Homo sapiens: one gene and its partners. The protein of the gene in region 2 purifies or fractionates together with the protein of the main gene of each other region. This does not show direct contact. Each region holds a gene or a part of one and is shown on either strand. Other genes may lie near its edges.

Region 1 (4,317 bases), on a different chromosome or scaffold from region 2:
TACCTCAAAGGATTCTTTCATTGGCCTCCATAGGACATGAACTTTCTGTGTCGTTTTGTGGTCTTTTATCTCCCATTCACAAGTAGATAATAATTTACCTGGATAAAATTTTAGGTTCAACCCTTTGGAGATATTACTCCTTTATCCACTTTTTTTTTCTTTTTTTTGTTTTTTGTTTTGATATGGAGTCTAACTCCGTCATCCAGGCTGGAGTGCAGTGGTATGATCTCGGCTCACTGCAACCTCCACCTCCTGGGTTCAAGCGATTCTCTTGCCTCAGCCTCCCGAGTAGCTGGGACTACAGGCATGTGCCACCACACCTGGCTAATTTTTATACTTTTAATAGAGACAGGGTTTCACCATGTTGGCCAGGCTGGCCTCAAACTCCTTACCTCAAGTGATCCAACAGCCTCAGCCTCCCAAAGTGCTGGGATTACAGGTGTGAGTCACCACGCCCGGCCTCTTTATCTACTTTTATCCAGGGTTATTGCCAAGAAATCTGATTCTTGCTTCTTTGAAAGAAATCTATTTTTTCTCTTTGGAAACATTTAGAATTTCTCTTGATCTTTGATGTTCTTAAATTTTACTATCTGGTATGGCACACAGTGAGGTTTTTCAGTTGAGGTCCTAATATCTTTAATACGGTTTTTTTGTTTTGGTTTGGGTTTTTTTTTTTTTTTTTTTTTGATGGAGTCTCGCTCTGTCACCCAAGCTGGAGTGCAGTGTTGCGATCTCAGCTCAGTTTAACCTCTGCCTCTTGGGTTCAAGCGATTCTCCTGACTCAGCCTCCTGAGTAGCTGGGATTACAGGCGCCCGCCACCAGGCCCTGCTAATTTTTGTAGTTTTAGTAGAGACAGGGTTTCGCCATGTTGGCCAGGATGGTCTCGAACTCCTGACCTCAAGTGATCCACCCGCCTCAGCATCCCAAAGGGCTGGGATTACAGGCGTGAGCCACCATGCCCAGCTCATTAATATCTAACAGGTTTGTTTAGTCCTGGAAAATTTTTTGTCATTATTTTTCCAGATATTCTTCTTCCTTTCATTTATGCTTTTCTAGCCTTCCAAGTAGTCTATTATTGTGATACTTCTACTTCTGTGCCCTAGTTCTCTTGTCTCTTCATTCCATCTCTTCATTCCTGATTCATTCCTGATGCCTTCTGCGAGTCCCTCCCCTCATCTGCCAGCATATTAATGCATTCTTCAGATATACTCATTCTGGCTTCCATCCCACCCACCAAGATCTTTATCTCAACAATTGTTTTTCCCATCCCTGATATCTCCAGTGGGTTCTTCCCCATAACTGATTCTTCCTGCTTCATTATTCTCCCCTACTTTGCTGTGGCTATTTTTCCTTTTTAAAAAAAACATTTTTATTCTCTTCCACCATTTCTGTCTCCCGTGGTATAGGTTGTGCTGCTTTATCTTTCTTAGTCTCAGAGCTCCTCAGACATCTTGTAATTTTCCCTGTGAGCTCATCTTTAACCCCTTGCACCGTCGGCAGCCTTGGCTTGTAATATCTCCCATGGGTTGTGGTAAAAAGCTTAGGCCTTGGTTTGTGCTCCTCATACATTTGGAGGGCAAAGGGTTGAGCCTCACTGAGGATGGCTCTAGTGTTAAAATCCAGTCTCAGTGCCACTCCTCCACCCCAAGTATCCTTTCCGCTGGGGTATTTTGCAGTTCCCTCTATTGGAATAGGTTGGGGAGAAGAGGCTGCTGGTGTTGCCATTGCCTACACTTGTTTCCCATGGCTGGTGTACCTGCTGGGCACGAGCACTGGCTCACTGCCCCAAGCCAGCCCTGCTGCTTTTCTACCTGTAGCAATGTCGCATTGATCCAGGGACCCAGGTTTGTAGGCAGGATCACCTGGAACTCACAGGCGTGGTAGGAGACGTGCAGCCCTGCCCTTGCCCTGCCCACTCCTGCATGGGTGGTCTCGAGCTCGCTCTCACGTGAGGCCATCATTCTCCCCCAGGATCCAACCAATTTATTGGCCTCCAGAAATGTCTTGCATTTTTGGTGCTAGTTTCCGATTGAGGTTTTGTTGCTGTTGTTGTTGGTTTTGACTATGATTCTCTTTCTCTGTCCTCTGGCATGTCCAGCATTGGGTTCACAGAGACAGCTGGCAGCTGGTGCTATCTGTACCGTCTTATCCAGGACCAGAAATCTTTCTTATTATGTACTTCACTGGCCTTGTTACATCTTGCTTATGAAGTTTATTTTTATTCCACTGTTGGGGAAATGGACCCTTGAAGAACTTTCATCTTCTTTGTTTTAATAAAAACTTTTTACATAAAATGTGAACTGGACATTTTCACAGGAAACCAACGGAAGGCATTGGTTGAGAATGCAGGCTTTGCAGTTGACTATGATGTAGCTCTAGACTTTGCTACTTCATAACTGTGTACCCTTGGACAAATTGACTTTTCGGAGCTGGCTCTACCCAGTCCCCCTTTGCAAGCCCTGCAGAGAGACAGCTGGTTCCAACTGCTGGTAGATCTCTGAATTTAGAAATTGGGGTGCTTAGAACTTTTTGCCCCAGTTACAATTCTGGAACAACAGAAAAATATCACTGACATCTTATTCCTGAAATAAAATTTTAAAGCTAGAAGAGATGGCCTGGGCTTTGGTGCATTCCTTCATTTCAGAGAGGAGGAGACTCCAAGCATCGTGCCATTGTTAAGCAGTGGTGGAGGACACATTAGAACCTGGCCCCAACCCCTTCTGAACGTTTTCTTTCTGCTACATCAGGCTTGCTTCTAAAGTAGTTGTTATGATTGTTATATATTCCCAGTGGGTACCAAGAATAGTAATCCTTTTTTTTTAAAGGGATTTTGTTTGATATTCTGGATATGCCACAGTTCCCTACATGTTGGTCTGCTTTTTTCTTGTTCTCTTAGGAGAGATGAAGCCAGTATTGATTTGAGCATGCTAGCCTTAATCGCTGAGTTATATCGGGGAATGGTGCTGCTTTCTTCTGCAATCTGCTCTTGGATCTCTTTGCAAAACTCTGATTTACTCCTTGTGATTATTTGGGAAACAAATCAGAAGAAAACAAAACTGGTTTCCTTTCCTCTCCCCCTTACATTTTTTATGACCTATCTTAACTTTGGCAGGTTCGATACAGAGGAGGAGGCTATAGCAATCGCTAACGCAGCTGATGTTGGGTTAGCAGGTAGGTGTTTGTCCTTGTTCAATACCAGTCATAATCATTTTTCTCCAGCTCATGCCAGATTTACCCTTTTAAACATCACCCTGGGTTTTGAGACAGAAACTTCAATGAGGTATGTGTTTTGTTGCTTTCCAAGTGGTGGAATGGATTTGGATTTGTGCAAGTATGTGTACTTTTCCCTTGTCCCCATGATACACATTTGGGAGCTCTCTAATTACAGCTGTGGGAAGAAGAGAAGGTGCACATTATTCTACTTTTCTAGGTGGAGAACTGCACACATCTCAAAGTCCCACATTCTCAGAGGCTTAATCCCCAGAAATTCCAAATGCTTTTTCTTCCCTTTTGCGTGGCTCCTGTAAGCCTGAACAGAAGAGGAAGGGCATCAGCAAGGAGTGTCAGGGACAATGAAAGGAGTGAAGATGGTGTGTGCAGAGGTGCCTCTCTGATGGCTGACATTCCTTTAGTTTGGAGATGGGCCAGGTGGTCACTGCATGTACTCTATAACCCTGAGAAAATTATGTAATAGCATCCACAGCAAATGAAGTACTGCAGAAGATACAAAGACATACAAGATGCCACTATAGCTCTATAGAAGCTTCCCCTCTAGCTGTAAGAGAACTATTTATACCAAGAGGAATGATAAGCATGCTATGAGGTCCCTTAGAGTTATCGTAAAGCTGGAGTAAGATGTGTGCACAAGGACGTTTATAACACTGAGTTCAGCATTTGTCTCTTCCTTCTCGATGGGGTGATGGTGGAGGAAGACGTACCCTGAACTAGGTCATAAATGATGGGCAGAATTCTGGTTGTGCAGAAGCTGGAGGAGAGAGATTCTGGGCAGAGGGCACCAAGGGAGTTGAGAAGCAAAGTAAGAAAGGGTGAGGAGAATTTGGCTGACAGGTTTGGAGAGGATGGTTGGTGATTGGAGTAATGGAAGATGAAGCCAGAAATGTTGATTGAAACTACTTGTGGGGGAGAGGGTGTTGAATACCCACTAATGAATTTAACCTTATTTTATAATCAGGAGTCATCGAAAGGCTTGGGCAAAAATGTCGTGTGGAAATCTAACAGGTGTGCAGGTGGATTGAATAGTAGAAAACAGGAAGAGGGTCTCGATAGGAGATAGTGAGAGTAGAATTGAAGCAAGA
Region 2 (4,317 bases):
GGCAGGAGGATGCCTTGAGCCCAGGAGCTGAAGGTTGCAGTGAGCTATGATTATGCCACTGCACTGCACCCTGGGTGACAGAGCAAGACTGTCAAAAAATAAATAAATAAAACCTGAAAAGCAATCTTAATGATAGTAAGGAATTAATGGGCTTTTTTGTTTATGTTGGTTTATTAGTGTTTTGTTACTTTTTTTAAAACAAATCCTTCTTCTACAGATGCATTCTGAAAATTTTTATGATTAAAAAAAAGAAACATATTAGTTGAGTTTTTGTGGCGTAAGGGCAGTGTTAGTTTTTCTGTTTTTGTTTTTTGTTTTTTTGAGACAAGGTCTCACTCTGTTGCCCAGGCTGGTCTTGAACTCCTGGTCTCAAGCCATCCTCCTGCCTCATCCTCCCAAAGTGCTGGGATTACAGGTGTGAGCCACTGCACCCAGCTGAGACTTTCTGAGCTAAAAAAAAACTGTATGAATCCCTACCCATAAGAAAACTCTTATTTCTATTATTTTATGTTTTAAAAACTGTTTCTATGAAATTATGCATTTTTAAATATACTATAAATACTTGCAGTCTTGTGTTCTAGCTTAAGCTGATTCAGTTAAACTTACCAGTTGTTCAAGAAGCGGAAAGGATTTGATGAGTCTAAAGTCTACAGCCCAAGTTATTTACGTTTTGTAGATTATCTGAAAATAGTCTAGTGGGATTTGGGTAGAGAAGTATATATTTAATCACATTGCATTATATAATTCTTTAGATTGTAGTAATGGGTCTAAATGATTGCTGAATATTTTTCCTTCTGAATTTGTGTCTTCAAAAAGTCAATTATTTGGCTGATCTTGAATAGTGAACTTAAAATACTTTGATGGAAAAAGGAATTATTTCATTCATGATACTGGATTATTCTGTTTCATAACTTTCCTTGATCTAGGTGATCTTGCTGTAAGAAACTCTGTATTTAGGCTGGACGTGGTGGCTCACACCTATAATCCTAGCATTTTGGGAGGCTGAGGCGGGAGGATCACTTGAGCTCAGGAGTTCAAGACCAGCCTAGACAACATAGTGAGACCTCATCTCTATGATAAAACAGATTTTTTTAAAGTAAAAAAAAAACCTCTCTATTTGAAAATTTGATCATAAAACACATTAAGCAGTGTTTATAATGTGAAATAATTTACTTGATTTACTATAAATATACTGTATGTGTAACTGGCAAGTTTGGTATACAGAGTTGGCTTTATACATAAATATACTGTATGTGCAACTAGCAAGTTTGGTATACAGAATTGGTATACACATATACTGTATGTGTAACTGGCAAGTTTTGTATACAGAGTGTGTGTACGTATATACGCACATATACATACATATTTAAATTTGGAATCAGCAAAATTTTTTCTTTTCTAGGAACTAAGCGTCTTGTAGAAGGAACTATTAATCCAGGAGAAACCTGTTTAATCATTGAAGATGTTGTCACCAGTGGATCTAGTGTTTTGGAAACTGTTGAGGTTCTTCAGAAGGAGGGCTTGAAGGTCACTGATGCCATAGTGCTGTTGGACAGAGAGCAGGGAGGCAAGGACAAGTTGCAGGCGCACGGGATCCGCCTCCACTCAGTGTGTACATTGTCCAAAATGCTGGAGATTCTCGAGCAGCAGAAAAAAGTTGATGCTGAGACAGTTGGGAGAGTGAAGAGGTTTATTCAGGAGAATGTCTTTGTGGCAGCGAATCATAATGGTTCTCCCCTTTCTATAAAGGAAGCACCCAAAGAACTCAGCTTCGGTGCACGTGCAGAGCTGCCCAGGATCCACCCAGTTGCATCGAAGCTTCTCAGGCTTATGCAAAAGAAGGAGACCAATCTGTGTCTATCTGCTGATGTTTCACTGGCCAGAGAGCTGTTGCAGCTAGCAGATGCTTTAGGACCTAGTATCTGCATGCTGAAGACTCATGTAGATATTTTGAATGATTTTACTCTGGATGTGATGAAGGAGTTGATAACTCTGGCAAAATGCCATGAGTTCTTGATATTTGAAGACCGGAAGTTTGCAGATATAGGAAACACAGTGAAAAAGCAGTATGAAGGTAAGTGTATTATTCAGGAATCTGCAAGAATCAGAAATCCAGCTTAAACTGAAGAAGAAAAAGGAAATGCTCATGTCATTGAAAGTCCATTCATAGAGCAGGCTGTCAAGCGTGGTTGGATCCAGGAGCTCAAGTGATATCTTCATGACTTGCTTTCTCTCCATCTCTCAGCTCTGCTTTCTTCTCTGTTGACTTCTTTCTCAGGTAGGCATACTCTGCATGCTCACCCCAAACCAATCACTCTAGCTTGGGATGTAGAATACCTTCATTAACTAGCCTGGGCAATTTGCTCTGCAACTGTGAGGTTGTTAACTCTGTATGACCTTCTTGAAATAAGAACCAGTCAGGGATAATTTCCTTAAAGAAAATGGATGTGCTAGTACCAGAAGAAGGGTATGTGCCTGGGCAAGCAAATTTGACAGATGTCCTTGGCAGAATATGATGTTTTGAATGAAAATTCCACATAAAGGAAACAATGAAAAAGAAATATAAAATGGTAAGATTTATTTGTAGCAGAAAAAGTTCTATTGATAAACATTATTTAAAGATTTTTCTTTTATCAAATAGGGACTCAAAGTAGTGCATGTGTTGGTTGAGAAAAATGCTTAGTTCTACTGCCTATTCTATGCAAATTTCTGTCTATGTTTTTACAACTGTGTGATCAGACTATATTTAATGCATTTTTCACTTAACCTGGTAACAGATATTTGGTTGTGTCATATAACATTTTTTGTAGGCATCTTTGAGGTAACTTTTCTTTAATGTATGCATGTTCATAAGCTATTTCTTTAAAATAGATTTGTCTTTAAGTGACTTCTTCATGTGCTTAAGATGTCCTGCCCTCATCACATTGCCTAGCTTACTTTAGCTGATTGACTGACATAAGAGTTTTATACAAACTTTCTTCAGCTCTGCATAGAGTTTTTTCGAAAATCAGGCTTGTTACTGTCCGCTTTTAAAAGGAATATAGTTGCCTATTGAAATTAGATAGCTAAGGAGATCTAAGGAACACGTAGAAATATTGAGCGATAGTAAAGCTGCTGAGAGACCCCTGCAGAGTGAAAACTTGTCATCTTCAAGAAGAATTTTATTTTTATTATTATTTTTTTTGAGATGGGGTCTTGCTCTGTCGCCCAGGCTGGAGTGCAGTGGTGCAATCTTGACTCACTGCAACCTCCACCTCCTGGGCTCAAGTGATCCTCCCACCTCAGCCTCCCAAGTAGCTGGGACCACAGGCATGCGCCACCACACCTAGCTAATTTTTTTGTATTTTTGGTAGAGATGGAGTTTTGCCATGTTGCCCAGGCTGGTCTCGAACTCCTAAACTCAAGCAATCTGCCCACCTCAGCCTCCCAAAGTACTGGGATTACAAGCATGAGCCACCATGCCCAGCTTCAAGAGGAATTTTTAAATGTTATCCTTGACATCAATAAATGTTTATCTTCACTGGAGTCCCTTTCTAATAGCATGAGCTTTATTTGTGGTCATGAGCTTCAGCCTTCAAGGAAAAAGAGTCCTGTTAGTGTTCCAGATAAGCCAAGTGCAGACCTTGAAAGTTTTTTCTCATTGTGATCTCTCACCCAGCTACTTACCTGAATAACAGATACAGTTTTCACAGATGGAACCATGGGTCTGCTGATAATCACTAAAGTTCCTGAAGAGTTTTGATTCTCTCATTAACATGTTACTGGGAGATTATTTCATATTGTAGTTGGTTGGTTGGACAAGACGTTAGAGGTTTTGTTTGAAAATCAGCAAATATCTTTTTTCCCCCTTCTTCTTAGGAGGTATCTTTAAAATAGCTTCCTGGGCAGATCTAGTAAATGCTCACGTGGTGCCAGGCTCAGGAGTTGTGAAAGGCCTGCAAGAAGTGGGCCTGCCTTTGCATCGGGGGTGCCTCCTTATTGCGGAAATGAGCTCCACCGGCTCCCTGGCCACTGGGGACTACACTAGAGCAGCGGTAAGTGGTGGGGGGACTGGGTGAGAGGGGGCAGGGGCTGCTATGCTGCATGCTGCAAGAAGATATCTCCTAATCTGGCGTTTCTGGAACCTCTGCCAAAAAAAAAATCCAGCTCTTGTTAGTGTGACAGTATATTAATACTAGTTGGATAGAATTCCTTGATAGTTAATAGCATTTTATATCATGTAGTGGACACTTCAGGAATTTGAATTATACTCCAAGAGAAACTTTGAGACCCAGATAGTTAGTCAAACAAACACTTACTAAATCTACCAGGACTTTA
Region 3 (4,317 bases), on a different chromosome or scaffold from region 2:
AAACTTAATCATGTCTAGGTTTTGATTTAAAATGAGAGGGATGTGACTTTTCCATTCACTTGAATACTCAGAGGCCACTGTGGGGTTATTAATTGACCTAATTTAAATACTGTTGTGTCTCAGGGCATAGGGAAACTTGAAGTGAGCAGAGAAAGGGAATGGGTAACTGGTGAAGGAGTCACAACACACACAGTATTTATCAATTAAGTTCACTGCCTTATCTGGGTGTGCCCTGTGGTGCCCTAAAACAATCACAGTAGTAACATCGAAGATCACTAATCACAGATCACCATAACAGATATAATGACAAAGTCTGAAATATTGTGAGAATTTACCAGTATGTGTCACACAGACATGAAGTGAATACATGTTGGAAAAATAGCACCAACAGACTTGCTCAACACAGGGTGGCCACAACCTTCAATTTGTAAAAAAATGCAATGTTTGCAAAGCACAATAAAATGAGGTACGCCTGCATAACACTTATACTATCTGGCTAAATCTAATACTGATGACAGTCAATGCTTAATTTAGAAGAGGTGGCAGCTATTCTATAATTTCTGAAAAAGCACCCATTAATATTATGAGTTTTACAGATTTGTGAAGCTCCAGTCTATGAAAACTCAGACCTATGCCAGCAGAGTCAAGGCTTTGTTTTATATTCCAAGGAATATTTCTTGACTGACATTTCCTTGTTTCACAATGATACTTCTTTAGATTCATCATTCAGGGTGGCCAATGACAACTGGAAGAGTAAGTATGGCTTGGCTGGCACCTCTGTATTTTAAACTACTATTATTTCTAAACTTTAAGCAATGCACAGAGATTTATACCAACATAAACACTTACAAAGACTTAAAATTGTATTTATATTGTGTTCTTTATCAAACATAAACAAACTTAATTATAAGAAATGCCTTATTGAAACTTTTAATATAAAACACATACCTCTTGTAAGGTATTAATATCTACTCCATCCCCTTGAATAACTCTAAGATAAGGTGGCAGCAACTTGTAACCCTTTGAGTTCTCAGTAACAGGAAACTTCTTACCTAAAATCTCCAAAACCTATATGGAAAAATACACATGCAACACAAATAACTAAAGCTGAAAACAAGTATAAGAGCTTTTCAAAGTTAAATGATTTTGCTTTGATAATCGAGAATATAAAAATTAACTACTTTAAAAATTTTATAACACTATGTATATGCTCTCTAAAATTTGGTCCAGTGTACTTTAAAGGGTTAAAGTACATTAAAAACAAGCATGTTATTTCCTATGAAGTGAATTCACATCATAAAGTGGCTCAAAACAAGTTTTTCCCCTTAGACCTTTCAAATTATATGGATTCAAGGAAAAAAAAATCCTTAATATTAAATAAGTATATTTTAAAGAAGTATATAAAGCATTATTTAACAAACTCATGATTATACTTTTAATTTGGACTTATTCTGCTTGTGCCCAATGACTTTGGTTTTTGTCTGATATATAACTCCAATATGAATCCAGTTCAATCACAAAGTTCAGAGAAACTGTGAAAGGCAGACACAGCATCTAGAACCCATAGTCTCTAAGTTCTCCTTTGCTCTTAAAGCCAAACTGCACAATACACAAATCATCTTACTCATTCACTAACTACTAAAAGTTTTGTACACCAAATTAAAATTTCTCAGAAAGCTTGGTCATATAAACAAAAGAAATACATTCTCTTCCCACAACAATCATTTCTTTTTCCTAAATAAACTGATTAAAGATTCTAACAAAGAGAAAATTCCCCATTGATGAAATCAGTTTCTCATAACTAGCTGTGTACATTTTTTATTACGTAACAGTAAAAACATGAAACCTATCAAGTTTGCTAAAACCAAATATTGCAGGCTAAGACAAGACTTTCAGATTGGCCTATCATTTAATAGAATAAGAAAAGACCTCCTTAATTCTGTTTCCCTTTCTTAAGGGGTAAGTATCATCTGCTCATTAACTGACAAATGGTGTGGTCAAGTAGCAAGGCTGCAGCCAAAAGACCTACACTGGATATCTGACTCCTTATCTTTCATGTTGTGTGACCTTGAGCAAGTTACTTTAACCTTTTTAAGCCTCTGTTTTTTTCTTCTATAACAGAGACAGTAATATTTATCACTGTTTTTTTTTGTAGAGATTAAATGGCGTATCTTATGTAAATCACCTAAAATATTTTTCTAGTAGTAGGCATCAAATAAGCCTGCTATTACTACTTTTTGAAGAAGATAAACCAAGTCCTTGAACATTAACAACAAAAAGTAACACTGCTACATTATGAATCAACAGTATTTCTAAAGAACCTCCACTTGAAGAGTATTTTTGAATTATTTTTATTCCACATCACCCTGTTCCTATTTCTTCTGTGCTAACAACTTCAAAGGTCTAGCAGTGACTTATGCTGAAAAAGAAACAAACTGCAAATAAGTTTGGTGCCCAAATCATAGGATTAATTAAAATGGCAATGCTGTTAATTAATTTTGCAGGTAAGCAGAAAACAAAATATCTATTCAAATGTCTAATTGACAGTAAAACAATCCATAAGTCTTGGTATCCTTCTGTGCTATTACTGTGTGACCTCAGGCAAATCTATTACTCTCTCTGGGCTGCAACTCTAAAATAAAGGGGACTGGTCCACACAGCTCTGAAATTGTGTGTATATAAATGAAAAGTAGTATTGATGCAGCTGGCCTACAGAGGGATTCTAATAATAAAGTTACATATGAAAATTTACCTTTAACACAGTGTCAAGAGGGTTTCCAGAATCAGGTCTGATTATTAGTGGTGCCTGTGTACTTCTTGATACTATTAAATGTCTTAGATCTTCACCCCATATTTTCTCACACGCATTATAAATGTCATAGCTATCGCTGACCACAGATACAGGCACTGATGAAAACTGTGTTACAATATGTTCAAAAGCATCTTTTTCATGGTCTTTCCCCCAAGCTGTTATGGTACTAGAAAAAAAAATGAAAACACAGATTTACTTAGGCAGACACTTGATCTATCCCTGAATCACCTTTAATCATATCTCATGTTTACTATACCAAACCATCAACATCACAGAGAAGGTGAGTGACTTAGTTTAATGAATATACATCGTAAGGCAAATGAAGTAGCTGGGTCAACCATACCTTACCCAATTAGTTTTTAACGCTTTAAGTAGCCTTACTCCTCTTCAATGGTTAAGTTTCTAACCTCGTATTTTCAACCAATTATCTGTGTGTGTGTGTGTTTTCTGGTATTCCTGAATCTACTCATTTAAAATCAGTCTAACTAAAAAGCACTTGCTGAGTGCCCTTTATACTGTATGTCAAGATGTTAGAATGAATACATATTTCCATTATTTTGTTAGGCAATGAGAGCACCTGGCTCCCTTCTGTGAATTTTTGAAACTATATACCAATAATAGTACAGACATACATTTTGTTTTTTTACCTTTCAAAATCTTATACTTAGAGGCAATTATTTATACTATACCATACATACATATAGTCAACTACCTGTTATATTTTCAAGTGGCTAGTAATAGGAAGTCATGTATTTTGTTTGCAGATTATCTACTACGAATTAATATATGCCCAGGGAATAAGAATTCAAATACTTAGTTTAAGCAAAACATAATTAAGATGGAAAATAAAGTATGAGAGTTTCTATTGGATAAGAATGGTTATAGTGATTTTTGCAATGTCCTTAATATCAGTTCTTACGGGATAGATTTGTATTCAATATGTAATTATAGATTGGGTATCGCTTATTTGAAATGCTTGGGACCAGAAGTATTCTGAATTTCAAATTTTTTCAGATTTTGGAATATGTGCATTATACTTATCAGTTAAGCATCCCCAGTTCTGAAATCTGAAATCCAGTTCTGAAATCTGAAATGCTCCAATGAGCATTTCCTTTGAGCAAAAAGTTTCAGATTTTGGAGCATTTTGGATTTGGGATGCTCAACCTGTGTAAATATTTGTTAATATATAATGTAAATAATTTTAAAAGATCTCAAACAACTTAATTTTGAAAATTACCATTTAATTATGCCAAGCAATTGGTCATTCTCCCTAATTTTCTAGTCCGCCTCTAATCTGTTCTCCTCAGTAAATAATAAAAAGATAGCACATTCATTTATTATAAAGCCCAAGTAGGTATAAGTTTAACTCATAACTGTTTGAAGAGTCAGACTTTATGTCTGAAATAATCACTTTATACAATGTGTGTGTGTGTTTTTTTTTTTAAAGGACTAGACTTAGAACCTTTCCCCATACTGTCAATGGTATACCTGGGGTAGTGCAGCAT
Region 4 (4,317 bases), on a different chromosome or scaffold from region 2:
GCATCCACAATCAAACGTGTATCAAGATTCAGTATTTGCAGGATATGAAACCTGAGGATGTGGAGGGCTGACTTCATATATGCAGGTTCCATAGGGCCGCATGCGCAGATTTTGGTATCTGAGGAGGGTCCTGGAACCAGTCCCCAGTGGATACCAACGGGCGACTCTTTGTTCTGCATCTAAATACATCTCTTTTTAGCCCATTTATGTAAGTAAAAATGAGGAGCAAGCATTATTAAAATATTTAAGTTGCTTATATATTGCCTTAGAAATTTGTTAGTGGTGGCTTTAAGGACCACTAACATTTGTGGTGAAGTTGAATGTACCCAGGCAATTTAATACATACTAAATACAGGTTCTCTTAACTGCTGTATATTTGTCATCATCACTAACATTTAATGAACACTTAACCACGTGTCATGGCATTTTACATAGTGCTTTAGACATATTCTGTGATTTAATTCTCTCAACTACCCTATGATGCATATACTGCTATTTTTAAAGAAAATAAGTAACAGGCTAAGAAGAAAGCTATTAATAAAAGAACCCACATCTTCCTAATTTCATAGTAAAACTATCTAATCTCCATACTGCCTGCACCATATGTGGTTTGAATATGTGGCTCTCTCAGTCTGTAAGGCTTGTATTAATTTTATCTCTCACTCCCATTTCTGCATAGAGAACTCCTATTTACTTGTTAGATTTCACCTTAACCTTACTTTAGGGAAGCTTTGTGAGCCTTCAATCTAAGCTAGGTTCTTTTGTTGTAGGTTCTCATAAAATATATTTTCCTTATTCCAGTAATGTATCTCAGTTGATTATTCATCAGGATGATTGATTATCTTTTCCTGATACTTAAAAGCTGTGTGAGAGCAAGAACCATGTTAGCCACATCAGAGTTTGATCACTATCACATCTCTTAGTACCTTGCCTAGCATGTAATAGTAAAATATTTGTCAAATGAATGAATAAACACTGTGCTGTTAGAGTATAGGCTTCAGTGTGGTTGTGAATCTCTTCTCCCTTTTGCTTTTATTGTCCTTACCTTGCATTTTCCTACTAGCTACTCTTTCTCTTACCTGCTAATAAACCTTTCCAGTACAACTCTATTCTCAGGTTTGTTCAGAACAAGGCCCTACTAGTGATTTTGGAAACCTTATAACAGATTGTTGATCTGATTCCCTGGATAAGATTCCAGGAATTTTGTTTACCTCCTGAAACTGTATGCTACATTTTGTATGATATGCACATGTGCATTTTTCTTGGGAAAGGATCTGGTATTCAACAGGGACATAGGTGGCTTACTCTAAAAAAATTGCTGCTATAGAGGATTCTTAGCATGGGAATTAGCCCATATATTCTTGTAGCTTTCTGCTGTCATTACAGGAACTTTTTCTAAAATCAGAAATGGAAAGGCCATTGTTTTTTAGAATGCAGTCAGCACAACTACCTGGTAATAATTGGCCCAGTGGGTTGGTATCTGCTTGGAAATGATACTTCTGAGAAACAGATTTTGTTACCAGTTAACTTGATGGGCAGTGTTGGCTATGGTCAATGCTAGATAAACAAGTAATTAATAACTGAAGCTTTTAATAAATGATGGTGTTCTCACTCATAGATGGGAATTGAACAATGAGAACACATGGACACAGGAAGGGGAACATCACACTCTGGGGACTGTTGTGGGTGGGGGAAGGGGGGAGGGATAGCATTAGGAGATACACCTAATGCTAAATGATGAGTTAATGGGTGCAGCACACCAGCATGGCACATGTATACATATGTAACTAACCTGCACATTGTGCACATGTACCCTAGAACTTAAAGTATAATAATAATAATAATAAAAAAGAAAAATAAATGATGGAAAGACAATTGAGCAAAAATTTAAGATTTAGTTTTCCTGTTAATTGTGTTATTAGACCTCCCCCCACCAGTTTTTTTTAGTTGATCTTACTTGACTAATCACAATGTCTAGGCCTTTTCCTTTTCTTTATTTTGTTGTGAAAAAGCTGTTGCTATGTCCAGTAACACAGAAAGGAAGAGAGATTTTCCAATTGTCACTAGTGTTGTTACCATGCTACTGATTCCTGAAGCATCAATGGACACAGCATGATTTCTTAATGAAGATGGGAAGTAGACACTGATTTGCTTCATTGGAGATTCTTTGAATTGCTCTACTTATTGTAGTAAGTGAGGAGATTGAGCAAGGGATTTTTCCTAAGAGTCTTGCTAAATGATGCTAGGCAAAACTTAGGAGAGCAGCAAGGAAAGTACTCTGTTTTGTACTAGGCATTGTTACTAGATTGCCAACTCTAAAGACAGAGTTGGCTTTTGGGGGTTATCATTAGTGCATTGAAAGAGTCAATTCCATTACTCTGTCTTGTCCTATAGGTAAGAATCCACTAGGAACTCAGAGAGTCTTTTTCTTTCATGGTGCATTAACCATTTCTGCTGAGTGCAGCTCATTTCCCTCCCTCTACCTGTTCTCCCAACTGTTGCTGTGGACGTGCAGGAGAGAACATACCTAGTATATAGCCTACCATATGCCAGGACGGTACATTCTTACTCTTAGGAAGAATGGTGTTTTCCTGGTCTTCATCTTAATTTATTACCCTCTTTTGGAAAATTTTGGTTGGTTTTCCCTTTGTTTTCTAATTTTTTCTACCATTAAAAGTGTTTGAAGTGATAAGCATAAAGGGTAACTTTTGAATTGTTTAGTTTTGTGACCATATTTACAAAGTAAGGCAAAATAAAATAGACAAAATACATAAAAATTATGATTGAAATTTGGGAAAGGACCAGAATTTTCCCCCTATGGTTTTACATGTTCGTCTTTACATTTTTAAAATAAACTTTGCTGGACTTTTTTTTTTAAATGCACTTGGGATTTAAAACCTGTAAGTAGTTTTAGAAACTCACACATCACTTTGTACTCTGAATTCCTTACTGGAAAACCAAGTCTCCACCCTCAAGGAGTTTTCCTCCTTCCCAGTTACAGGTCGGTCTTTTTCCTTTGTCAGTAGGATTTGATTGTGTAACTAGTATTTATTGAGCAATTCCTACAAGTGTGTGACACTATATTAGATGCCTAATAGGTATTATTTCATCTTTGTAAGACTAGTGCGTAAGTACTACTGTTATTTTATATAAAAGGTTAAGACATTTGTCCAAGTTGACTTAGCTAAAAAGTAAAACTTCATATATTTAACCACTGCTCTCTACAGTATATGGCCTCTCAGTATGAGATTTTATTGATTCCTATTAAAAGAATTTGCAGATACCAAAATATGAAAAATTCTGTGAAACTGGGTTACATACATTTAAAGTTGTTATGGAAGAACTAATGACTAGGAATATGAAAAATATAGTAAGGGTCTTGCCTTACCAGTTTCAAAAACTTGTGTTAGTCATTGTAAACTAAAAAGAGTATGGTACTAGCGAAAGAATAGACAACTGGAAGAGTTAATCTTAGAGCCCAGGATATATACATATTTCAATTCAGTGGATAAAAGATTATTTATTAAATGGTGCTGGTAGAATTGGTTAGTCATGTGGATGTAACACATACTATATACACCAATTTGGAGGAATTAGAAATTTAAAAATAAAAAAGTTTAAAATTTTAGGACAAAATATAGTTGACTATGATGTCGAGTTGCAGTAAATCTTTTTATGAATTCTTTTCAAACGAGACAGAGTTCAGAATTTATCAAAGAATGGATATTTAAATTTAAAAAAATTATATTCCAAAAATATAACCAAATACAAAAGATAAATAATAGAATAAGGAAAATTCTTATAACAAATTTGGTAAGGTGTCAATATCCATAATATATAAAGAGCTTCTATGAAGTGATTAGAAAATATTAATAGGCACGTTACAGAAGAACAAATTCAAGCAGTCAGTAAGCTATTACCTTAATGATTAGAGTAATGCAAATTAAAGTAACAGTGAGGTGCCCATCAGATTTGCAGAAAATTGGAAAAAAAACACTTAGAGCTTGTGAAAATGTCGGAAAAGAACAATCATATAGATGGAAACACTAGAAATTGCTACAGGCTTTTTGGAAAATAATGTTAAAATTGAAAATACACATAGTCTTTGATTTAGCGATCTTGTTTATAGTACTCTATCCAAAATATTTATGAATAACAACAAAACCTGAATGCTGCTAATAGAAATTGGTTAAATAAATTAATGGTGGATGCATTCTGCAGATAATTATTAGCTGTAATAAAAGAATTAGTTAGGTCTATATGAACCTGAAGGGACTTAGAATATATATATATTTAATATTATAATAGAGACAGGGT
Region 5 (4,317 bases), on a different chromosome or scaffold from region 2:
AGTATGTCTACTTCATCTTGTCAGAAGCAGAGTCTCTAAATGAATTTTATACAACTGCCTCCCACAATGGGATATGAGTGTATTTGGTTACAATATGTCTATTTTCAGGATGAATCAAAACTGGTCAAAAAGCTACAACAATGATAAAAACGTTGTTTGACTTTGTGTTTTCTCCCTACAAAATCTCAAATTTGCTTCTAGTGATGAAGATACTTATTTCTCTAGAAGTATTACTAGAGAGCTTTGTAAGAGGTTACATCTTAAAGTTAAAATCTCCATTGCCTCTTATCTTAGTCCATTTAGGCTGCTGTAACAAAAATTCCATAAACTGGGTGGCTTATAAACAACAGACATTTATTTCTCACAGGTTTGGAGGCTAGGAAGTCCAAGATCAAGGCACTTGGAGATTTAGTGTCTGTCCTCATAGATGGTACCTTTGCACTGTGACCTCACATGGCAGAAGGGCTTGATCATTCTTTACAGTCTCTTTTATAGGATGCTAATCCTAATCATGAAGACTTTGTCCTCATGACCTACCTAATCACTTTCTGAAAGGCCCCACCTCCTAATACCTGCCTCAGGGATTAGGATTTCAACACATGAATTTTGAGGGGACACAAACATTCAGACCATAGCACCTTTATTACCCTCAGTCTGCAGAAAGGAGAAGTTCCACACTTGCATTAGCCATATTTTCAGAAATTAAAAAATTTCTCTGGTTTAAAAAATGTTGTCTTTCGACCTTAATAAGACTGAGACCAATTCCCTTTAGAGACTATCTACTTTGTCTCTCAAATAACTTTCAAAAGTGTTATATTGCCCCCAACAGAAAGCCTTCTTCTTTTTTTTTTTTTTTTGAGATGGAGTCTCACTCTGTTGCCCAGGCTGGAGTGCAATGGCACGATCTCGGCTCACTGCAACCTCTGCCTCCCAGGCTATTCTCCTGCCTCAGCCCCCTGAGTAGCTGGGATTACAGGCACGCGCCACCATGTCTGGCTAATTTTTTTGTATTTTTAGTAGACACAGGGTTTCACCATGTTGGTTAGGCTGGTCTCGAACTCCTGACCTCATGATCCACCCACCTTGGTCTCCCAAAGTGCTGGGATTACAGACGTGAGCCACCGGGCCTGGCCCAGAAAGTCTTCTTAAGGCTCAACTAAACATCCAGACTTATAAGACAACCATAGCCATAGGCCATACATGGTGCCAGTTTACTCAAAACGGTATCTGTTAGGAAAACACAGATTGCCAACAAAGAAGTATCAGGTGTTCCTCTTCAGTGGGAGTCCTTACAGGAGTCGACACAGATCAGGTACAGGGAGAAGATTCACACTGGATATGAATGAGAATCACCCTAGGGCAGAAGGCCCCATGTACCACAGGAGCCAGTATCTCTAGTAGCAACTCCATAGGCAGAACTTCTAGAATTTCCACAAGGGACAGTTATAAGAGTCACTACAATCAGGGAAGTCCAAAGCTATGGCTTCCTTTCAAGTATTTACAATTCTCCCTCTCCAGATGCAATTTACCAATTGGGTTATTTTTACCATAAGCAACAAACACAATTTTTCATTGTTTTCTGGGAAACTAGGGAGTTAACGAAAAGTCAAATTTTCATAAAAGGGGAAAGGGTTTGTTAACTCTTTATTACTAGGTGTCACATCTCCCACAAAACAAAAGTGAACAAAGTGGTTTTCACCAGACTTTTAAAAATGAGCTTTTCAACTGCCTTCAGTGTATCTTGAGGAAAGCAAGAAGTCCTCACTACTTCCTGCCTAGACAATTATCTCTTTGCTTTTCATAGGCTTATCTACATGCAATTTGGAGTGATCTTTCCATAAAGAAAACCCTGTCATGTCATTTTTGGCTTAAAAATCAATACTTCAGTGGTTCCTCAACACATTTGAGAGACAGTCCCAAAAGCAACCACATATGTAGCTGCATACTTCTCTAACACCAACGGTTATCACCACTCCCCTAAACCGGTCATCTCAAACATTTTCTATTTCATACCCTTATCACTTAAATAGCAACCATTACAGGGTGAGAAAAACAAATGAATATAATGGGAATTCTCATCTTTTCTTTGAGTACCCTAATGATTGTTTTGGTCACCCTTCCCTCAAGTCCCACTGCTTATAACTTCATTCACTGTGTTACCCGTAGGTCCCTGCCTCAGTTCTCTGATGTCATTATGCCTTTATATATATTATGATTCTCTATGCCTTGAATAGTCAGCCATTTATCTGGCCATTGTCCTTCTTCCTTCCTCCTTTCCATTCCCTATTCTCCTTTCTACTGCATTCAATTCCACCAATCTACCTGATTGGAGAGGGACCCCATCATATATATATATATTCATATATTTATAGATATATTTATATATTAATATATATTAATTTTTTATATTTTTATATATTCATATATTTATATATGGAACGATGTGAAAATGGACATTGGCAGTGGTGGTAGAAATAATGGCAACACTGAGGACATTGTCTACTGTATTAGTGGAGACAGATACAGATAGTAAAAAAGAAAAGATCTCCAGATCACTACTTGGAAGGAGAACCTGACCTTTTTTTTTTTTTTTTTTTTGAGACGGAGTCTCTCTCTGTTGCCAGGAGAATCTGACCTTTTAAAGAAAGTTAGCCCAGAGAGATTGCCCAAAATGTGACATAGCCATACATTCTCTGGACTTCCTTTATAATGAAGATGCAAATGATCAAAAAACAAGTCGACTTTGTGCCATTGCTGCTGTCTTCTTTACAAACGAGACCCTCATATCACTTATCTCACCTTCTGGAAGAGCTTTTTAAGTGGCCTAATCACCTCCAGACTTGGATCCCTCCAATCTACTTTATAGAATACTTCAAAACCCTGACTCATTCCCCACTATGTATATAAAATCTAACTTCCTTAGATGTGACACTCAAAGCTGTCTCCACAATCTGGCCCCAACCTACCATGTTAGCCTCTTCCACCACTGCTTAGATAACCTGAACTGCAACCAATAACATTTAACTAACTCTCCAGTACCTGCCCTGCATTGCAATTCTACCATCCTAAAACTGTTGTGGGAAGTCAGGGACCCCGAATGGAGGGACCAGCTGGAGCTGTGGCAGAGGAACATAAATTGTGAAGATTTCATTTTAATATGGACATTTATCAGTTCCCAAATAATACTTTTATAATTTCTTATGCCTGTCTTTAATCTCTTAATCCTGTTATCTTCGTAAGCTGAGGATGTACATCACCTCAGGACCACTGAGATAATTGTGTTAACTGTACAAATTGATTGTAAAACTGTGTTTGAACAATATGAAATCGGCGCACCTTGAAAAACAACAGAAAAACAGCGATTTTAGGGAACAAGGGAAGACAACCATAAGGTCTGACTGCCTGAGGGGTCGGACAAAAAGAGCCATATTTTTCTTCTTGCAGAGAGCCTATAAACGGACGTGCAAGTAGGAGAGATATTGCTAAATTATTTTCCTAGCAAGGAATATTAATATTAATACCCTGGGAAAGGAACGCATTCCTGGGGGGAGGTCTATAAACGCCCGCTCTGGGAATGTCTGTCTTATGAGGTTGAGATAAGGACTGAGATACGCCCTCGTCTCCTGCAGTACCCTCAGGCTTACTAGGGTGGGGAAAAAACTTCACCCTAGTAAATTTGTGGTCAGACCGCTTCTCTGCTCTCGAACCCTGTTTTCTGTTGTTTAAGATGTTTATCAAGACAATACGTGCACTGCTGAACATAGACCCTTATCAGTAGTTCTGCTTTTGCCCTTTGCCTTGTGATCTTTGTTGGACCCTTATCAGTAGTTCTGCTTTTGCCCTTTGCCTTGTGATCTTTGTTAGACCCTTATTAGTAGTTCTGCTTTTTGCCCTTTGAAGCATGTGATCTTTGTACCTACTCCCTGTTCTTACACCCCCTCCCCTTTTGAAACCCTTAATAAAAACTTGCTGGTCTAAGACTCAGGTGGGCATCACAGTCCTACTGATATGTGATGTCACCCCCCGGCAGCCCAGCTGTAAAATTCCTCTCTTTGTACTCTTTATTTCTCAGCTGGCCAATACTTATGGAAAATAGAAAGAACCTACGTTGAAATATTGGGGTGGGTTCCCCCCGTATCAAAACACATTTTTGCTAAGATGTTTCCTTCATCAGAATGCCTTCCCATGTACTCTGCTGGAATCCTACCCAATCTATCAAGGCATAGGCCCATCACCACCATCTTTTTGATGTGTGCCCTGATCCCCACAGCTGAAATACAACCTTGAATTGTATCACTCTTCATAGTTTAGAGAACA
Region 6 (4,317 bases), on a different chromosome or scaffold from region 2:
CTGTGTTTCGTTCCTTTTGTGCAGTTCTTTGTTCAAAATGCCAAGGAACTGGACACCTCACACTCATGACCTTCCTTCCAATAACAACAGTAGCAAAGATAAGAAATCAACCTGAGTGTCCATCAGTGAATGATTGGATAAAGAAAATGTGGTATATATATACACCGCGAAATTCAGCCATTGAAAATGAAATCATGTCCTTTGCAGTAACTGGAGGCCATCATCTTAAGTGAAACAACTCCCAAATAGAAAGAAAAATACCACATGTTCTCACTTACAAGTGGGAGTTAAATAATGTGTACACGTGGTGATGGAAAGTAGACTGATATTAGAGGCTTAGAAGGGTTGGGGAGTAGGAGTGGGTAGATGATGAGAAATTGCTAGGATCATTGTACATTATTCAGGTGATAGATACACCAAAACCCCAGACCTAGTCACTAAATAATATATCCATGTAACAAAATTGCATTTGTACCCCTTAAATTTATACCATTTTTTTAAAAAAAAGGAAAACAATATGTCTTACAGATAACAGAAGCTGTGAGTTACTGTAAGAATGCTGATTTCCACATCTTTCATGGTATAAGTCAACCTACATTGTGTAAAATGGAATTATGTAGCTTTTAAGTGACTCCGATCTCTTAATATACGTATAATAATTTTTCTTAATTTTAGAATAATTTTTGAGGAACTAAAATTGCTTTTTGTCAAGAAATTTCTCCTCCAGAGATGAGCAGTTTATTTAGTTCACTTTGTTTTCTTTTTCTTCTGTTGAATTCTCTTATTAAAAATAACATGTCTAGTGTGATCCTATTGTTATAATTTGAATTCTGACCTTGTTGCTTACTACCTGTGTGACCTTAGTCAAATTATGTGAGTCCATTTCCTCATCTATAACTGGGCATTTTATTTACTTCACAAGATGGTTGTAAGGATTAAAATATGTACACTTGTCCCTAGTATCTGTTGGGGATTGATTCTAGGATCCCCCTTCAGATACCAAAATCCACAGATGCTTAAGTCCCTCATATTGTATGACATAGTACTTGCATATCACCTGCACCCATACTCCCATATACTTTATCTCTAGATTACTTATAATACCTAATACAATGTAAATACTGTGTAAATAGTTGTTATACTGTATTGTTTAGGGAATAATGACAAAAAAAAGTCTGTACCTGTTTAATACAGATGCAAACATCTTTTTCCCCTAAATATTTTCAGTTCTTGGTTGGCTGAATCCTCGAATATGGAATCCACAGAAGGCTAACTATACTTAAATGACCTAGCCCACTGCCTTAAACTCAGTGTCTGCTCAAAAGAGAACAGCTATTACTATTTTTTAAATTCAGATTGTATATGTGCATGTCCTTCTTCAGTAATGTACTTTTAAAAATCATCAGTATATTCTGTTTCAGTGCTCTATTTATTATTTACATCTTTTAAAAAGTTACTGAATTTAAATTATCTGTTTATTATGTAAAGTGTTCTACAATGGACTTTTCTCAGGTTTGAACTTGTTCTGGAAGCTGTGCGTCACCGTAATGAGGCTTGTAATTCTTGATAACTATGACTTGGCTAGTGAATGGGCAGCCAAATACATCTGTAATCGCATCATTCAGTTCAAACCTGGACAGGACAGATATTTTACACTGGGTTTACCAACAGGTAATTAACTACTTTTTCCATTTTATATTCTGATATTATCTAAATTTAATTCTGATGGAATTGAAGGGTTTCTTTTAAGATACTTTCCCCATTCATTTATTGGCATGTCACTAATTGAACATCATAGTATAAAAGGCCAGAAAAATGCATATATATAAAATCTACTATCTACAATGTGTTACTAGTTCTTGTGCCAAAATTTAGTCTCACCTGTCACTCCAAAATGCAATAGGAAATATTGTAACTTAAGTGTTGTTCATATTTTTTGTACATTTTTCTAGTAGTCCTTTGTTTTGGGGAACATTGCTTTTACCATTCATACCAGTTTTTAGTTGATTGGCTTTCTTATTAATCATTAAGAGGTACCTAAGGTATGTACTGTTGCCTCTTAATTTAACTTCACCTGCCTTATAAATCCTTATTAATATAGAAGTTATAAATTATATATTATATAATGTTTATTAGCCTTTTACTATTTGCTTCTTCTATTATAGATGTATTACAAGTGAAAAATATATCTTCATCACAGTAATTACATATTTTATTGAATTCAGTTTTCCATTAAGCATTCTCTTAAAAAACGACTAGGTGGTGTCATTTGATCTTATGGCACTTTATTTGACCCATGATTTTCACAGAGTGTTAGACCTGGAACTAAAGTTGCTCCTTATTGACTACAAGGCATTTGTTCTATACCCCTGAGCCTTGGTTTCCTTACCTATAAGAAAGATAAGGATAATAACTTAAGATGCTGTTTTGAGATTCAGCTAAGATAGTGTATGTGTAAGTCCCTTGTATACTGTAGTCTATAAATTTATAGTTCCCGTGTGTTTTATTTAAACAGACTGTTTTCTCCAGCTCCTCCCCTCATACATGGTAATTACATAAAAACTACAATTGTAATTTTTTCCCACTTGAGTAATTTCCGTGAATGGTACTCTTCAAGTTGATTGTTTTGTTTTGCTTTTTCTCTTTTGGTCCAGGGCAGTAGATCTTGGTGAGAATGGCAAAAGGGTTTTTTTTTTTTCACTGGACACACCAGTACTACACCCCCAGCACCCTCAGTTCTGATATGTGACCCCTTGGGGTTGAACGTGGTTTCTGTATAGTTTCTATACTGTTACCCTTCATTACACTCAGCCTACCTCTGTTAATAACATTGTGTTAATTATGATGCAGAAAAAAACAGTAATTTGAGTGGGGACAGAAAGACTTAGTCTTAAATGTCAGCAGTGCTAAACATCTTTTTGTGTATTTAGATCTACAACGTTTGCTTTATTTTGGGTAGTATAACTGCTAGTAATATACCTGCCAAGTGAGGATCTCTGGAAAACCTTGTTGAAATTTTCCATTACTCTCCTTCATTGACCATCGACAAGTTAATTATGTCCTCTTCCCCCACTGCTTCTGAGACTTGAACATACATGTCGGTAATTGCTTGTACCAGGCTGCATTGTAATTATCTCCCTATCAAGCGCAATTTCTGGGCAATATCTGTTCAATTTTATATTTACTCACGTGACCTTAATGAGCTTGACATTTAAAGGCCTGCATGCTGTGAACCTGATCTGCTTCCCAAAACTTATTCCCACCATCTCCTTACACAGAACTGGGCTAGGCATATTTGACTGCTTGCAGTTCAAGAATAGGCTTGAAGTTGCTGGCTGCTTTGCTTTGCTTTGCTTTCACTCATATTCCTAGCATGTTATTTAATGGAATCTATATGAACTCTGGCACCAGACCTATCTAGATTGGAATCCCTGGTTTCACAGCCATATGACATTTGGCAAATTCCTTAATCTTTTTGACCCAGTTATTTTGTCTTCAAAATGGGAAAGATAATGCCAGTTTCTCAAGATTGTGAGCTTTATGTGAGGTAATATATAAAAACATTAGCGCAGCATCTAGCCACATGGTAGACAGATGTCATCGTTGAACCTCCCGCTCCATCTTTTCTCTGCTCTGAGTTAGTTTCCTCTTTGTTGAAAGTGTATCCCTTAATCAAGACTGAATTGAAATGCCATTTTCTTTTATTGTTCTTCCAACTCGCAAGATTGTAGTCTTTTTTATTTGATGTTCTGCAATACTCAGACTTCTTTTAGATTATTTATAATGTTTTTCCTGTGTTATGGTTATTTTGTACTTGCTTATCCCTATATTGTGAGTTCTTAAAGAAAATGTCTTAATCTTTGTTTTATATAAATCATAGTAGGTACTTGCTAAATTGTGTTAGTAATGACTATTACAAAGCAAATATAAAAATTAAGTTTCTTTAACCAGTTCTTTTTTTTTCTTCAGTCTTTTTTTTTGGCCACATTGATTACAAAATAGAAAATGAATTTGTCACCTCCATTGTGACAGCTCACCTTTTTATTCATATATCCTTAAATTGAGAGACTCCTATAACTCATCTCTTGACACTAAAAGAGAGAAGAGATTCACTTATCCTTCGAGAAAGGAAGAGGGAAAGCATATTTATCCATCTTTTAGACAGGTTTCATGTTAGTGGGCTATAGTTGTTGAGAAACGTAAAATTTTACTACATAATTTTTAAATTAATAATTGTAATTGAAAACAACATATGTGCTTAGCTTTTAGAAAATCTTTTTTTCTTCTGCTGTGTGGTATTTATTTATAGCCTTGTCT
Region 7 (3,902 bases), on a different chromosome or scaffold from region 2:
TTTTTTTTTTCTGAGACGGAGTCTCGCTCTGTTGCCCAGGTTGGAGTGCAGTGGCGCAATCTAGGCTCACTGCAACTTCTGCCTCCTGAGTTCAAGCAATCTTCCTGCCTCAGCCTCCTAAGTAGTTGGGATTACAGGTGCCACCACACCTGGCTAATTTTTGTATTTTTAGTAGAGACTGGGTTTCACCATGTTAGTCAGGCTGGTCTCAAACTCCTGACCTCAGGTGATCCACCAGCCTCGGCCTCCCAAAGGGCTGGGATTACAGGCTTGAGCCCCGCACCCGGTCAGTACTTCCATTTTTATATGCTACTATATTGTCTTGACTTTTACAATGAATATGTAGTACATTTCATAAAACTAAATTTAAAAATAGTATGTGCTAAGTGCTCCAATAAGTGAAGTTGGGAATTTTCTGGAAACTTCTAGTTGGAACATCTAAACACAGAAGTCTGGGGTGTCAGGGAAGGTTTCTCAGAGGTCTTGTAACCTTGGCAAGTTATTTAGCCTCCCTATGTCATTTTCCTTATCTGTAAAGTGGGGATAATAATACTACCTTCCTCACAGGGTTGTTGTGAAGATGAAATGAGCTGACATATGGAAAGTACTTTTAGAGCAGTGTCTGGCATGTAGTAAGTATGATGTAACTGTTAGCTGTTAACATTAAGCTGAGAGCTGGAAGATGACTGAAAGTCAGCCAGCTAGAGAGGGAAAGACAGACTCAGGCAGAGGGAACCGCACGAGGCCCCAGATTGCCCGACACTGTGGTCCTTAGCAACTCTCCACAGCGGGGAAACCTCAACACCCGGCTTCGGAAGCTGGACGAGCAGCAGGAGTTCAGTGCCATCATCCTGGCAACAGCTGGCCTGCAGCGCATGGGCTGGCACAACCGGGTGGGGCAGGTAGGGCCTGCCCCTATCCTCTCCCCAGCTCATCTGCATCTCCTTTCTGCCTTACAGTCATCCCCAATTTAGGATTTTTAGACTTTATGATTGTGTGAAAGCGATATACGTTCAGTAGAAACTGTACTTAGTACCCATACAGCCATTCTGTTTTTTACTTTCAGTACAGTATTCATTACATGAGATATTCACTTTATTGTAAAACAGGCTTGGTGTCAGATGATTTTGTCCAACTATAATAGGCTAATCTTAAGTGTTCTGAGCACATGTAAGGTAGGCTAGGTGTATTAAATGCATTTTCAGCTTGTTTTCAACTTAACAATGGGTTTATCAGGATGTAACCCTATTGTAAGTCAAGGACCATCTGTCTTCACTTCTTGACCACCCCACCTCTAACACCGTAGGCTGGGAAGATTGTGAATCAGAGGCCAGACTCTAGGCTTTCATGGAGAAAATTTACAAAAAAAAAAAAAAAGAGGCCAGACTCACACTTAGGCCTACCCAGGCTTTCTAGATGATAGGGAACTCCCATCTCACTGCCAGGTGCTTTTAGACACCCCCGTGTCCACCCTTTTGACTCCCTGTTCCGCCTCCACAGATCCTGCACCCTGAGGAATGCATGTATGCTGTGGGCCAGGTACACTTGACCAGGGAAGCCACATGGTGACATATGCCTTCCCTTTGTTCTCAACCAAGAAGCTTGTCTCACAACCTTCTGCATCTGCTTCCCCAGAATAGCATTCTCAGGGAGGGGCAGACCTTGGGATGCTACCGGTCCAAAAGGCGCTGGGGAGCAAGTAGATAGAGGTGGTCCCATGCTTTGCGCCATTGGTTGGGGAAAGATCAGGCCTGATGTCCTAGGATGTTTTTCCATCAGGGGGCCTTGGGCGTGGAAGTGCGAGCCAAGGACCAGGACATCTTGGATCTGGTGGGTGTGCTGCACGATCCCGAGACTCTGCTTCGCTGCATCGCTGAAAGGGCCTTCCTGAGGCACCTGGTAGGGCCTGTGCTCCACCTGTGGAGGGCTGGGGACTTGGAGAGCTGGGAAAGGTGGCAGGGAAGATTTCTTACATGAATGCTCTGTATACAGTGCTAACTCATTCTTGTTGAATGTTGTGTATGGATAGGACCAGGTCTGGGCCCACAGTTGCCTTTTCAGTGATGTCCTCAGGTCTGTGGTCACAGGGTGGTGTTAAGAGCCCTTGCAGCTCACAAGAACTTCTTGTTACAGGAAGGAGGCTGCAGTGTGCCAGTAGCCGTGCATACAGCTATGAAGGATGGGCAAGTAAGTGGGGGGAAATGGGCGGGAAGCCAGGGAAAGGAGGACTGTGGCATTTCTTCCTGTGCATCCCAGGTTTCTAGGTAGTCCCCTCTCAGACTGTGCTGAGGCAACTGTTTTCTTCCCCAGCTGTACCTGACTGGAGGAGTCTGGAGTCTAGACGGCTCAGATAGCATACAAGAGACCATGCAGGCTACCATCCATGTCCCTGCCCAGGTACCAAAGCTGGAGGGCGAGGGGGTAATAAACAAGAGTGCATATAATCTCTTGTTCTCACCAAATCCCACCTCCTTCCCTCATACAGCATGAAGATGGCCCTGAGGATGACCCACAGTTGGTAGGCATCACTGCTCGTAACATTCCACGAGGGCCCCAGTTGGCTGCCCAGAACTTGGGCATCAGCCTGGCCAACTTGTTGCTGAGCAAAGGAGCCAAAAACATCCTGGATGTTGCACGGCAGCTTAACGATGCCCATTAACTGGTTTGTGGGGCACAGATGCCTGGGTTGCTGCTGTCCAGTGCCTACATCCCGGGCCTCAGTGCCCCATTCTCACTGCTATCTGGGGAGTGATTACCCCGGGAGACTGAACTGCAGGGTTCAAGCCTTCCAGGGATTTGCCTCACCTTGGGGCCTTGATGACTGCCTTGCCTCCTCAGTATGTGGGGGCTTCATCTCTTTAGAGAAGTCCAAGCAACAGCCTTTGAATGTAACCAATCCTACTAATAAACCAGTTCTGAAGGTGTTGTGTGTGCGCGTGTGGAGTTGGCGGGAAGATAGGAACAAACACAAAGCCCTTTCATCCTTACCTCAGAGGCTGGGACTTTTGCCCAGAGTTCTCCTGGTACGTCCTTTCTGCTTCTGCCTCAATAGTTTTCATTTCACACAGAATAAATTGTCTCCCAGGAACACCAAGAAACAGAGCCACAATCTTAAATTCCTATGGTTTGCCCCTTCAGTTAACAGTAGAGCCTGTTTATATTGCATGGCCCCTCCCACCCCTATTATCAGGAAAGTATAGAAAGTCACTAATTCTACAACTCTCTTGCAAAATGAAAACAAACGCTCCATTTAAAAAAAAAACAATCCTTTAATAAAATTAGTCCATCTAAAACTCCCCAATGCCTAAGGTTCTAGTCGTGGAAGGGTTAGCTGCAGAATTCCAGTTCAGAAGCCAACGGAGGCTCAGTCCAGACAGGGATTAACCGACTTGTGCTGGTATCTAGGTGCTTGGATTGCCGAGTTGAGTTTGCTGGAAGGGAAATGGGGCGGCGTCGGGGGGCCCGACAGGCCTGGCTGCCAGTCGGCTTCCGCGAAAACGACTCTTGCTGTCCACATAGCCAGCCGTGAAGCCAAACTGCAGGCCTCTGCCCTCCCCTAAATGTCCTCCTAGGAGGCAGTCACTCGGGAGGAAGATGTGCCTGTTACCAAGTGCTTCGTCCCGGCCCCAGCGCAGACCTATGAATGAAGATGGAGGGAGAGCTGATGTGAAAGGCCTGGGTCCCGGCCGCAGAAGGGGCGCCAGACCGAAATCGGCGATCGCGTCTCTCCCACCAAAGCCTCCCGGCCAGCGGCCGCGTCTGAAAGTCCTGGGCTAAGCACCACGCCGGGGGGGTACCAGACACCCCGGCTGCAGCTGCCGAGGGCCTCACTCACCTTCAGGGCCGCCGGCCTCTCGGCCTGGACTGCCCACCTCGGCCCTGCGTCAGAGCGGAAGGCCAAG

Evidence for each region.
Region 1: the proteins of UMPS (region 2) and ALDH5A1 fractionate together in Homo sapiens (co-fractionation; one large-scale study listed by BioGRID). This does not show direct contact.
Region 3: the proteins of UMPS (region 2) and NAMPT fractionate together in Homo sapiens (co-fractionation; one large-scale study listed by BioGRID). This does not show direct contact.
Region 4: the proteins of UMPS (region 2) and AASDHPPT fractionate together in Homo sapiens (co-fractionation; one large-scale study listed by BioGRID). This does not show direct contact.
Region 5: the proteins of UMPS (region 2) and GLO1 fractionate together in Homo sapiens (co-fractionation; one large-scale study listed by BioGRID). This does not show direct contact.
Region 6: the proteins of UMPS (region 2) and GNPDA2 fractionate together in Homo sapiens (co-fractionation; one large-scale study listed by BioGRID). This does not show direct contact.
Region 7: the proteins of UMPS (region 2) and HMBS fractionate together in Homo sapiens (co-fractionation; one large-scale study listed by BioGRID). This does not show direct contact.

The regions. Positions count from the first base shown.
Region 1 is NC_000006.12:24,529,006-24,533,322, forward strand, and holds part of ALDH5A1 (succinate-semialdehyde dehydrogenase, mitochondrial isoform 2 precursor), read left to right. Parts: intron 1-3,113; coding exon 3,114-3,172; intron 3,173-4,317. UniProt on the Homo sapiens protein: Catalyzes one step in the degradation of the inhibitory neurotransmitter gamma-aminobutyric acid (GABA).
Region 2 is NC_000003.12:124,736,166-124,740,482, forward strand, and holds part of UMPS (uridine 5'-monophosphate synthase), read left to right. Parts: intron 1-1,402; coding exon 1,403-2,074; exon of another isoform or gene 2,075-2,278; intron 2,279-3,858; coding exon 3,859-4,034; intron 4,035-4,317. UniProt on the Homo sapiens protein: Bifunctional enzyme catalyzing the last two steps of de novo pyrimidine biosynthesis, orotate phosphoribosyltransferase (OPRT), which converts orotate to orotidine-5'-monophosphate (OMP), and orotidine-5'-monophosphate decarboxylase (ODC), the terminal enzymatic reaction that decarboxylates OMP to uridine monophosphate (UMP).
Region 3 is NC_000007.14:106,260,640-106,264,956, forward strand, and holds part of NAMPT (nicotinamide phosphoribosyltransferase precursor), read right to left. Parts: exon of another isoform or gene 3,027-4,317; intron 2,979-3,026; coding exon 2,753-2,978; intron 1,069-2,752; coding exon 949-1,068; intron 1-948.
Region 4 is NC_000011.10:106,080,175-106,084,491, forward strand, and holds part of AASDHPPT (L-aminoadipate-semialdehyde dehydrogenase-phosphopantetheinyl transferase), read left to right. Parts: intron 1-4,317. UniProt on the Homo sapiens protein: Catalyzes the post-translational modification of target proteins by phosphopantetheine.
Region 5 is NC_000006.12:38,696,080-38,700,396, forward strand, and holds part of GLO1 (lactoylglutathione lyase), read right to left. Parts: intron 1-4,317. UniProt on the Homo sapiens protein: Catalyzes the conversion of hemimercaptal, formed from methylglyoxal and glutathione, to S-lactoylglutathione. Involved in the regulation of TNF-induced transcriptional activity of NF-kappa-B. Required for normal osteoclastogenesis.
Region 6 is NC_000004.12:44,719,438-44,723,754, reverse strand, and holds part of GNPDA2 (glucosamine-6-phosphate deaminase 2), read left to right. Parts: intron 1-1,512; 5' UTR 1,513-1,547; coding exon 1,548-1,671; intron 1,672-4,317. UniProt on the Homo sapiens protein: Catalyzes the reversible conversion of alpha-D-glucosamine 6-phosphate (GlcN-6P) into beta-D-fructose 6-phosphate (Fru-6P) and ammonium ion, a regulatory reaction step in de novo uridine diphosphate-N-acetyl-alpha-D-glucosamine (UDP-GlcNAc) biosynthesis via hexosamine pathway.
Region 7 is NC_000011.10:119,090,625-119,094,526, forward strand, and holds the end of HMBS (porphobilinogen deaminase), read left to right. Parts: intron 1-788; coding exon 789-902; intron 903-1,500; coding exon 1,501-1,539; intron 1,540-1,779; coding exon 1,780-1,899; intron 1,900-2,133; coding exon 2,134-2,187; intron 2,188-2,310; coding exon 2,311-2,397; intron 2,398-2,485; coding exon 2,486-2,659; 3' UTR 2,660-2,925; downstream 2,926-3,902.